2 linked regions of the Homo sapiens genome follow. The protein of the gene in region 1 purifies or fractionates together with the protein of each later gene. This does not show direct contact. Each region holds a gene or a part of one and is shown in the gene's direction. Other genes may lie near its edges.

What was found. Proteins that work in one complex are often made in the same cells at the same time.
Region 2: the proteins of CD244 (region 1) and MTX3 purify together in Homo sapiens (affinity purification with mass spectrometry; 3 studies listed by BioGRID and IntAct, with this or other methods). This does not show direct contact.

Annotation. Positions count from the first base shown.
Region 1 is NC_000001.11:160,838,546-160,843,722, reverse strand, and holds part of CD244 (natural killer cell receptor 2B4 isoform 1 precursor), read left to right. Parts: intron 1-1,821; coding exon 1,822-2,139; intron 2,140-2,222; coding exon of another isoform or gene 2,223-2,237; coding exon 2,238-2,513; intron 2,514-4,673; coding exon 4,674-4,784; intron 4,785-5,177. UniProt on the Homo sapiens protein: Heterophilic receptor of the signaling lymphocytic activation molecule (SLAM) family; its ligand is CD48.
Region 2 is NC_000005.10:79,980,697-79,985,873, reverse strand, and holds part of MTX3 (metaxin-3), read left to right. Parts: intron 1-214; coding exon 215-303; intron 304-2,079; coding exon 2,080-2,190; 3' UTR 2,191-5,177.

The DNA of each region.
Region 1 (5,177 bases):
CAATGTGCTTTTACATGTTGTTCATTTTTCTTCTAGCTATTTTTAGTGGGAGGATTGGTTAGCATGTCTTAACCTGGATTTTCATTACATAATTAGAATTCCTTCGATGATTTTTTATCTCAACAATTAAGGGGATGCTGTAGAATGAAAGTGTTCTGTTTCCAGATCACAAACTCTCTGGAGTCAGGAATCATGCCTTATACATGAAGAGGCCCTGCCTCTTCAGGGGCTGGATTGCAGTGGGACTCAGTAAGGACTGAATAATTGATGAAGACAGTATATGTCCTCCTTGTAGGTTTAGTAATGATTTTTTCCATTCACCTTTGTTCTCAGGGTCTTTGTGCAATATTTGGTAGGTTGACTTGTTCTTATAAATAGTGCTAGGATCGTAGGAGACAGAGACACAGAGATGCACAGCACAGTCTCTGCTTTTGAGAAGCTTTTGGTTTGCTAATGGGCAGAGCCAGTACAAGTCATATAAATATAAATGGGAACCTATGTGTTTTAGTCTTAGGAGCATCAAGATCAAAGAAACATATTTCATCAAACAAATAGTATTACAAGTCCTTTAATTATTTACTTAGTCTCTTGAGAAAATGCCAGGGTGAAGCTGTGGCTTGGAGAGACTGCATTCATAATGCACTGGACATATAAAAACCCCTCTGTCTCAATTGCTCTCTTCTTAATAGCCTCCATTTTAACGGAGCCACTTGTAAAACTCTCCCCATCTCTTATTTTCTCTTCCAAATCCTCCCTGAGCCTCCCCAACTCACCCAGAGAGACTTTTTAATTTCCTGCACCTGCTGGGCCATGCCACATAGCTTTATTACTAAAAATGGCTGTAGGAACTTCCAGTTTTGTACACTGACTGCACAGAATTGCTCTAGGTTGTCACACCCCCATATTCATTAGGTTTCATCTTGATTCTTTGAGAGGCAAGTGCTGGGATCTGCCTGGGAAGTGTAGTTTTATTTTTAAAATTGTTTTCTAGGGAGAAATTTTTGTGGAGACTTTCTGATCACTGAAAAACTGGCAAACATCAATAAGTAATGACCAAAATCCAATGAACCAAGTGCCACGAGAGAGGATTATGTATTCAGCTCTGTGAGAGGATGGTTGAGGGGCCATGAGTTCAGCTTGGACGGTTAGTCTTCCTGGGCCTGACCATTCAGAATTTCCAACAGTCACTACTTGCCATTAGTAGTTGCCTCAGCACTGCTTGGAGGGAGTCACCTTAGATGTGGTATTTATAGCATCATGGTTAAGAATTTATCCTCTCAAGCCAAACTGCTGTCTTTACAAAGAGTAAACAAATAAGCTCCCTAGCACCTGTGCTCCCAGCTACTAGGGAGGTTGAGATGGGAGGATCACCTCAAGCCCAGGAGTTCAAGGCTGCAGTGAGCTGTGATTGCGCCACTGCACTCCAGCCTGGGTGACAGAGTGAGACCCTGTCTCTAGAAAACAAAACAAAAGAAAACAAAAACATAACACCAAACTGACTAGGTTTCAGGCTCATCATTCTTTTAACTCATCATACCTTTTAACTTAAATAGTTAAAATGTATAAAGTGTGAAACCTGCCTGTCACATAGTAAGTACTCAAGATTTTAGCTATTGGTCTATGGGATCCCTCAGACTAGGGACACAGAGCTTGGGGACAAGGGGAGGCAGATGGAGGGGATATGCTTTAAGGTGCTCCTAGGTTCTGGGCTCCTCATACTCATCCCCACCCAATTGGCTTAAGGGAAGTCACATCCAGCTGCCCACATTGCTCAGGCCTGACACTCTTCCCGCTACTTTCAGCTTGGGTTCTCTTTCCTAGGATGCCAGGGATCAGCTGACCATGTGGTTAGCATCTCGGGAGTGCCTCTTCAGTTACAACCAAACAGCATACAGACGAAGGTTGACAGCATTGCATGGAAGAAGTTGCTGCCCTCACAAAATGGATTTCATCACATATTGAAGTGGGAGAATGGCTCTTTGCCTTCCAATACTTCCAATGATAGATTCAGTTTTATAGTCAAGAACTTGAGTCTTCTCATCAAGGCAGCTCAGCAGCAGGACAGTGGCCTCTACTGCCTGGAGGTCACCAGTATATCTGGAAAAGTTCAGACAGCCACGTTCCAGGTTTTTGTATTTGGTAAGTCTCCAGGACTGTTCATACTGCCCTCTCTGATTCCTATAGGCCTCTAAGTTCTGTATTTCCAATGCCTTTCTGATCAGAATCTCTGCTTCCAGATAAAGTTGAGAAACCCCGCCTACAGGGGCAGGGGAAGATCCTGGACAGAGGGAGATGCCAAGTGGCTCTGTCTTGCTTGGTCTCCAGGGATGGCAATGTGTCCTATGCTTGGTACAGAGGGAGCAAGCTGATCCAGACAGCAGGGAACCTCACCTACCTGGACGAGGAGGTTGACATTAATGGCACTCACACATATACCTGCAATGTCAGCAATCCTGTTAGCTGGGAAAGCCACACCCTGAATCTCACTCAGGACTGTCAGAATGCCCATCAGGGTAAGTGGAACACACTGGGCTATAACAAGCGCTGAAGGTTTGGACCCCGCAACCAGGCTCATGTGCAAGACAGATGTGGTATGAGATAAAATCCCTTGGCCTCCTCTCCCAGTGCCTTGTAGCCCTTCCCAGGGTAGCCCTGGCCTCCAGGCACACAGTTCCTGTAAAGCTAGGCCTATCCTACTCTGGAAAAAAATGTTATCCCTATTTCCTTCTGGGAGATGCAAGCTTTTCTTCTGCAGAGGGAGGGCATAGTTGTTTGGTGAGTGACAGTCCTGAAATGGCTCCTGAACATTATTTTCTTCCTGGGAGAGGCTGATGGAGAACTGTCCTCTCCTCTTGAGTGATAACTTTCTCCAAGCCACATAGTTCAAGAGGTAACTACACTGTGCAGCAGTAGCCTGGAGCAGGAGCATCAGGATGACCCCAGGGATACCTAGATGAGTTCTTGGGCTGTTGCTTATGCTCATCCTAAGAGTTACCTGAGTTACCGTTCCACAACTTTTTATTACATAAACAGGGACTTAATGTACCAGCAGCATGGGCATTATAGGAAAAAAAAACCATACAGCTCTCATTCATAAGGAACTTATAGCCAAATGGGGCAACAAAAATAACTACTTGTGGACAAAAAAGAAACAAGACTGAGGCAGGCCGGGCGCAGTGGCTCCCTGTAATCCCAGCACTTTGGGAGGCTGAGGTGGGTGGATCACAAGGTCAGGAGTTTGAGACCAGCCTGGCCAACATGGTGAAACCCTGTCTCTACTAAAAATACAAAAAATTAGCTGGGCGTGTTGGCGGGCACCTGTAATCTCAGCTACTCAGGAGGCTGAGGCAGGAGAATTGCTTGAACCCAGGAGGCGGAGGTTGCAGTGAGTCAAGATCATGCCACTGAACTAGGACACTGGCTTCATCATTCAGAAGCTCTGTGATCTCTTAGAGGTCAGGTGTGGTGGCTCACACATGTAATCCTAGCACTTTGGGAGGCTGAGGCAGGTGGATCACTTGAGTCCAGGTGTTTGAGACCAGCCTGGACAATATGGTGTAATCCCATCTCTATTTAAAAAAAAAAAAAAAAGAAGCTCTGTGATCTCTGGCAGATTCATTAACCTCTCTGAGCCTCAATTTTCTTCCCCCCTTGAGTAAAATGGGGGTGATAATAAGTACCTCACAGGATTGCTGTTAAGAGTAAATGAGATAATGTTTGCAAAGAGCCTTGTCAGCCCTTGGAACACTTAATTCCTTTTCCTTCCTCTTGTTGGCTGGATTATATATCAGGCTACATGTGTGACACAAATCTTTTAAGTAGAAGTTCAAATGAGGAAGAGCCATGAAGGAAGGAATAGTGGAAAAGTGAGACGGAAAACTTGCCTGTACAATGAGTATTTTTTGAGTTAAAAACAAAGGAATGGATAAATGTAACATTTGTTGTGCTACATGTCCCTCAGTATCCATGACGAATTAGTTCCAGGACCCACCTCGCAACCACAGATGCCAAGATCCACGAATGTTTAAGTCCCTGGCATAAACAGGTGCAGTTTTTGCATATAACCTATGCACACATCCTTCTGTATACCTTACTTAAGTCACCTCTAAATTAGTTATAATGCCTGATACAATGTAAATGCTATTTAAATAGTTGTTATACTGTATTGTTTAGGGAATAATGACAAGGAAAAAGGCCTCTACATATTCAATACACATGCATTTTTTTTCCCTGAATATTCTGGATCCACAATTCATTGAATCCACATTGTGGAACTCAAAACTTTGGAGGGCAACTGTATTAGATCATGTAATTAACCCCTATAGGTAGATAACGTTATCCCCTTTTACAGGTGAGAAAATCTAAGAGGCTCTGAGGCATCTTCCAAAAATAAGATGACTTGAGAGGCCCAGAGAGGTTAAATAAATAGTGCAGAGCTCACAGGGTTAGAATTTGAGCCAGGCCTGTCTGATATATCTATGCTCTTGGCATCACTCAGAGGAGGTTAACCAAATGAGCAAAGAGAAAACCTTGACCGTGAGTTCTCAGAGCACGAGGCAATCAGCCACAACACAGAGAAAAGTGGGTTTTGAGGCAGCCCCTGCAGCAGGCAGGTGGGAAGGAAGAAGAGAGCGAGCTGACAGCTCAGTTCTCACGCCTTCTGTATTCCTCAGAATTCAGATTTTGGCCGTTTTTGGTGATCATCGTGATTCTAAGCGCACTGTTCCTTGGCACCCTTGCCTGCTTCTGTGTGTGGAGGAGAAAGAGGAAGGAGAAGCAGTCAGGTGAGTGGAAGGTCCTTAGGGTGGTGCTCCTGCCTGAGGCCTTGGATCCTGTGACTTTGTCCTGCGTCCAGTGGGATGTGTCTGGGAGCACAGCATCTCCTTTTCCTCAACGAGCTTTGGTATGTTTGTGTGCGTGGTGGCGGGGGGCAAGCAGGTTGCTAGGCTCTCTCTCCCAGTTCATGCCTTCTGATCCCAATGCGCAGATTTCCCTGTAGACAGCTGGTTTGGGAGGAGGTGTGGGAGGGGCAGTTCGGTTGCTGCCTCTGTGCTCTTTGGGGTTCCTGGGAAGAGCATTAACTTGCCTCCTTTCTAGAACCTTTTTTAAGGTTTGGCCATTTGGGGTAGAGGTGGGACCTGTTAGAAGCAAAAGCCCTTCTGGAGGTTTCTGCAGCT
Region 2 (5,177 bases), on another chromosome or scaffold:
GGATAAATTTTTGTCCGTTTTGCTCAGGGTTTAGTTTTAGAGCATTCGAATCCCTCTCTTCGCCTTTAAACCCAGAATGGTTTTCCTCTTTGCCTTTTTTGGGGAGGGTGGGGCACTGGACAGGGTGGGTAGACTCAAAATTCTTTCAATCTAAATAGCTTTAAAGGCTTTAAAAATTTCCTGTCTTTCTCTGATTTCTGTCCTGGCTTCTTAGGCATCTCTCCAGCTGGACAAGAAACGGTAGATGCAAATCTGCAGAAACTCACACAACTTGTAAATAAGGAATCCAACTTGATTGAAAAGGTCAAGTCTACTTCAATCATTTTATCATAGTTCAGTATTTTCCTTTCGGTAGCTAATATTGTCATTTGGGTCACACATTAACTGTACCCTTTTAGTTTTTTTTATAGAGTTTGTTTTTCAGAAAACTGTTTAAATATACTTTCACTAAAGTTGTATGTAACATAGTGTTTTGAAGCCAACAGTGGCCTGATTGGGGAAAGATCAGATAAGAGTATTGGGTTTACTTTTGCCACACAGTTAGTACCCTTTAAGCTAGGAAATCCAAAAGATTTGCTTTAAAAAAACAAAGCGGCCGGGCGCGGTGGGTCACTCCTGTAATCCCAGCTCTTTGGGAGGCCGAGGCGGGCAGATCATGAGGTCATGAGATCGAGACCATCCTGGCTTATACGGCGAAACCCCGTCTCTACTAAAAATACAAAAAATTAGCCGGGCATGGTGGCGGGCGCCTGTAGTCCCAGCTACTCAGGAGGCTGAGGCAGGAGAATGGCATGAACCCGGGAGGCGGAGCTTGCAGTGAGCTGAGATCGTGCCACTGCACTCCAGCCTGGGCAACGGAGCGAGACTCCATCAGAAAAAACACAAAAAAAAACAAAGCAAAAACACTTCTTGCTTGTGTGTCTGCCTCTCTGTCTCTTAATGTTTCTTAAGATTGTAAGCACTGGGCTTATCCTTTCTTATTAACAGCACCGTGTTCTTTTCTTCTTTCCACATGAAAGTTTTATTTTTTTCTCCTTCTTGTTCTTCTCTGCTCTAGATATAGTTTATAGTTTTTTCACCAGTGTAGATATTTTGCCACTTGGGGTGTTCTTTTCATGAGAGAAACATTGAGGAACTGGGTAGGGGAGAGAACCAACAAAGGAAATTTCAAGTGTGATTCTACTAGGAAAAATACAAAGAGGTTACATATTTTTTCCCCTGTAACTGATAAGCTTGCTTTTTTTTTTTTTCCTGATACAAATAGTAATACTTACTATTTTACAAACTCATAGGGCAATGAGGCCTGATGACACTGGCTAACAGTTTTTGAGGTCCACCACTGTGTTATTTGAGCTTGATGTGGGTTACCTCATTTAGAAGTGATCCAGTGTTTGGAAAACCACTGGATTACATTTAAAGAATTTATCTTTCTTTTTGCCTAATGTACTAGCTTCCTTTGGTCTACATATTCTCAGTTTTAAAAAGCTGGTCTTTTTTGATTGGAATACAGGTCATTTTCATTGAGGTAAAGAAGTATAGTTGAAAGAATAATAGTTTTGGAATCAGAAGACCTGGGTTCAAGTTTCAGCTCTCATACTAGCTTGTGACGTGGGGCAAATCACTTAACCTTACAGAGTCTCGTTTTGCTCATCTGTACAACAGAGAAGGTCTGTGTCTGCCTTTTCTTCATAGCGTATCGGGAAGATCAAATAAGATACTGTACGTGAACATAGTTTGCAAACTGGAGCTTAGTGTAACAGTACCGCTTTTACACTTACTATCAGAAGACCTCTTTAAGTTATGGTTGAGTTCAGTAGAATATTTATTTTGTGGAATTAACTATAATTCTGTGAAGGTATCAGGAATGAGCCACGTTGCTTTTTACAGAAACTGAGTCAGCTGGTATTTGAGGTATGACATTTAGAATTCTTGAGATTATTTGTAAGAAAAAGGTTTCTCTAGCAGCCCAGGAAACATATGGTTCTGTACTCTTCTAGGCTATAGTTTGGATGGGGAGGCCACAGTCCACATAAGCGGTGCCACAGCATTAGTCAGATGTATCTTTTGTACTTTCTACAGATGGATGACAATCTTCGCCAAAGCCCTCAGCTTCCTCCTCGGAAACTGCCAACACTTAAATTGACTCCAGCAGAAGAAGAAAATAATTCCTTCCAACGGCTTTCGCCCTGAGAGTAGTCATGGTTTGTGGCCAAAGTCAAACGATTGTTGCAGTAATCTCTTACACCAAGTGTGTGAAGGCAAAAAGAAGATACCATAATAGGTATTAAGGAAGACTCTAAACCAAAAGGAACTTTCTATGCCATCTATTTTTACTATTATTATTAGGAAGCTTGTATTCTAGCTTGGCACTGCATTTTTAATAACAAAGAGAATGCTAAATGAACTTGGTTGGGGGGGCGGGGAAGAAAAACACATCGTACTGTATACAAAGAACTGCCTTAATCATGGCAGATTTTTGCCTTTGGTTCACATGTTGCTGACCAAAGGCTACAATTCTGTTCTGAATGTGCACTCCTAATTTATTTGATTTAATTTATTCAATTTATTAACTTAGTTTTCTTAGACCAGGCTGAATACCTAATATGTGGCTTTTTGGCTGAGGCTTTTTACTTCTGTTTAGAAATTTGATGCCTATTTTAGGAACCAGAAAAAGATAAATTGCTTCAGTAGAAGAGACCATATTTAACTTTAAAAAGTGAGGAGGAATGTGCTTTTTAATTATGCTCTCATAAGTCTAATCTTTTGGGGGTTTAGTAGCACATAGATAAATATTAAAGGTGGTTACATATAATAACATCTGATAATACTCATTTCAGTATAACATTGGTCTTTGCTGATGTGTTCGATATAGGTTAGGAAGAGTTCTTTTAGTTTACTTGGGCAAATGTGGCAGTTTTAGACCTATGTCTTTGTAGTACATCTTCAGTTGTCTTTCTTGTATTAATTCCAGAAGAAGTGAATGTACTGGTTATCGTTACTATGCTAGGCTGTAAAATTCTTACTGAAATTGCCCACTTGTTAGACACTACTCAGGAGGAGCCCATGGCCAGGGTAGTAGAAATACTGTGCATCTGGTCCAAGTTTTCTATGCTTGGCTCATATTCTTTCATAAGATGCATATTCTTTCATAAGATGCATATCATGTAGTCAAAAGCTTTCTGACAACCAATTATTTTTCATATGTTTCACTTATAGTCGAAGAATACAAAGGAACAATCAGAAATAGCAGCTTTTAATGAATATTTTCTATTTATTGGTTGCTGAACTGTTAAGGGATTTGCTGTGTGGTAATTTTACTTATAATAGAAACTTGCTTATTTTAGTGGTTGAGGTGCTTCTGTTGTCCTAAAACTACTTCTGAGGTTTTTAAAATGTAGAACCATGTTTTTGATTAGTGTCTTAAAAGATTACTGTGGTGCTCAGCAAATCTTATCAAGTCGTGCAGGAACCCATATGTTAAGAAAATGAGCTTTGTAGTCAAAAGACTCATCTAATTTGAGCTGAGTGGAGCTCAGCTGTGTTTGACCCACATCCTCCCAATTTGTTCTGTATTTAGGTAGTTATTTATACAAGAGTCTTTAAGTCATTCTAAATATTTTTTCTTGAAAGTTTTAACTAAGTGAGAAATAAGGTAGTCTTCAAAATCTTGGTCATCTGTTTGGATGAGGGAAAGTACCTCATGAGTTGCACATTACTTCTACAACAGGGTGTGTGTGTGTGTGTTTGTGTGTGTCAGTCATCTTCAAAGGCAGATTATTAGATTCCAGCAATCTGAAATCTATTATTCCAGCAGTCTGAAACCTAAATATGTTATATTGGAAATCATGACTGTGAGACTTTATTGTCCTCTAGGATGGATGTATATTGGAGAAGGGTGGTTAGCACATTCATCAGACATCTGCTTATGCTGTGGTCAAGGCCAGTCATTTTTAATTTATATCAGATTTATATCAGACCCTCCAAAAAGTATTTGAAATATATTACAGTTATAACGTACAAGTACATTACATGTATATTACAAGTATATTACATGTAAAACAGGACAATTTAAAAATTTTAAATTTTAAAGAATTAAAAATTTTAAAAATTTAAATTAAAAAAATTAAAAATTTATAGAACCATATCAACACTGACAGATTCTAAAATTAAGTAGTAAATTTAACTCCAAGTTTCTCCATGGGCAAAGTCAAAAGATAATGCTAGGTTATGTCAATTTTTCTTTTCAACAAAACTGCTAATGTCTATTAGGAAGAAAAATGTGTTTAAAGTTTTACAGGAACGTGGAGCTCATGTTCTTCTGATATGTAGACTTTGATAAAGAAGCATACTGTAATGTTTTATGAACTGAAATTTTAATCAAAAGAGGTCATTTTAGAATAACAAGTATTATTCTTTTTTAGTAGAGGGAATGACTGTCAATATGATTTATTTGTTTTTGTGTCATCCCTACTTTGAACTGCTGTTAGCCTTACATTCTCACTATAGTCCATAATGCTTCCAGATCACCTTTTCTAAGATGCAACATGTGAGTTTAGTGAGAGTTTATATGTTGGGTTACTTAGTTGAGCTATTTATGTATAAGTAAATGAGATGACAGGAAGCTGTAACTGAGCACAAAGTACTTTAGGGAGCAGCCACACATACAGGAAGCTCTTAGAAAAGAACTTTTTTTTTTTTTTGAGACAGAGTTTCACTCTTGTTGCCCAGGCTGGAGTGCAGTAGCGCAGTCTCGGCTCACTGCAACCTCTACCTCCTGGGTTCAAGCAAGTCTCCTGTCTCAGCCTCCCAAGTAGCTGGGATTACAGGCATGTGCCACCATGCCCAGCTAATTTTGTTTTTTTTTTAGTCGAGACGGGGTTTCACCATGTTGCTCAGGCTGGTCTTGAACTCCTGACCTCAAGTGATTCACCTGCCTCGGCCTCCCAAAGTGCTGGGATTACAGGCGTGAGCCACTGCGCCCGGCCAAAAAGAACATTTTGTCAATCTGAACAGAGCACAGAACATTTTTTCAGACTGAACAGACTGTTGGACCAGCCTGTCATGATATGTTTTAGATAAAGTTTGAGTGAGTTCATTGGGATAAATGGTCCACAATCTTAAACAGAATACTGTGAGCCAATGCCTTTTGGAAGTAATGGTGGAGGATAATATGATTA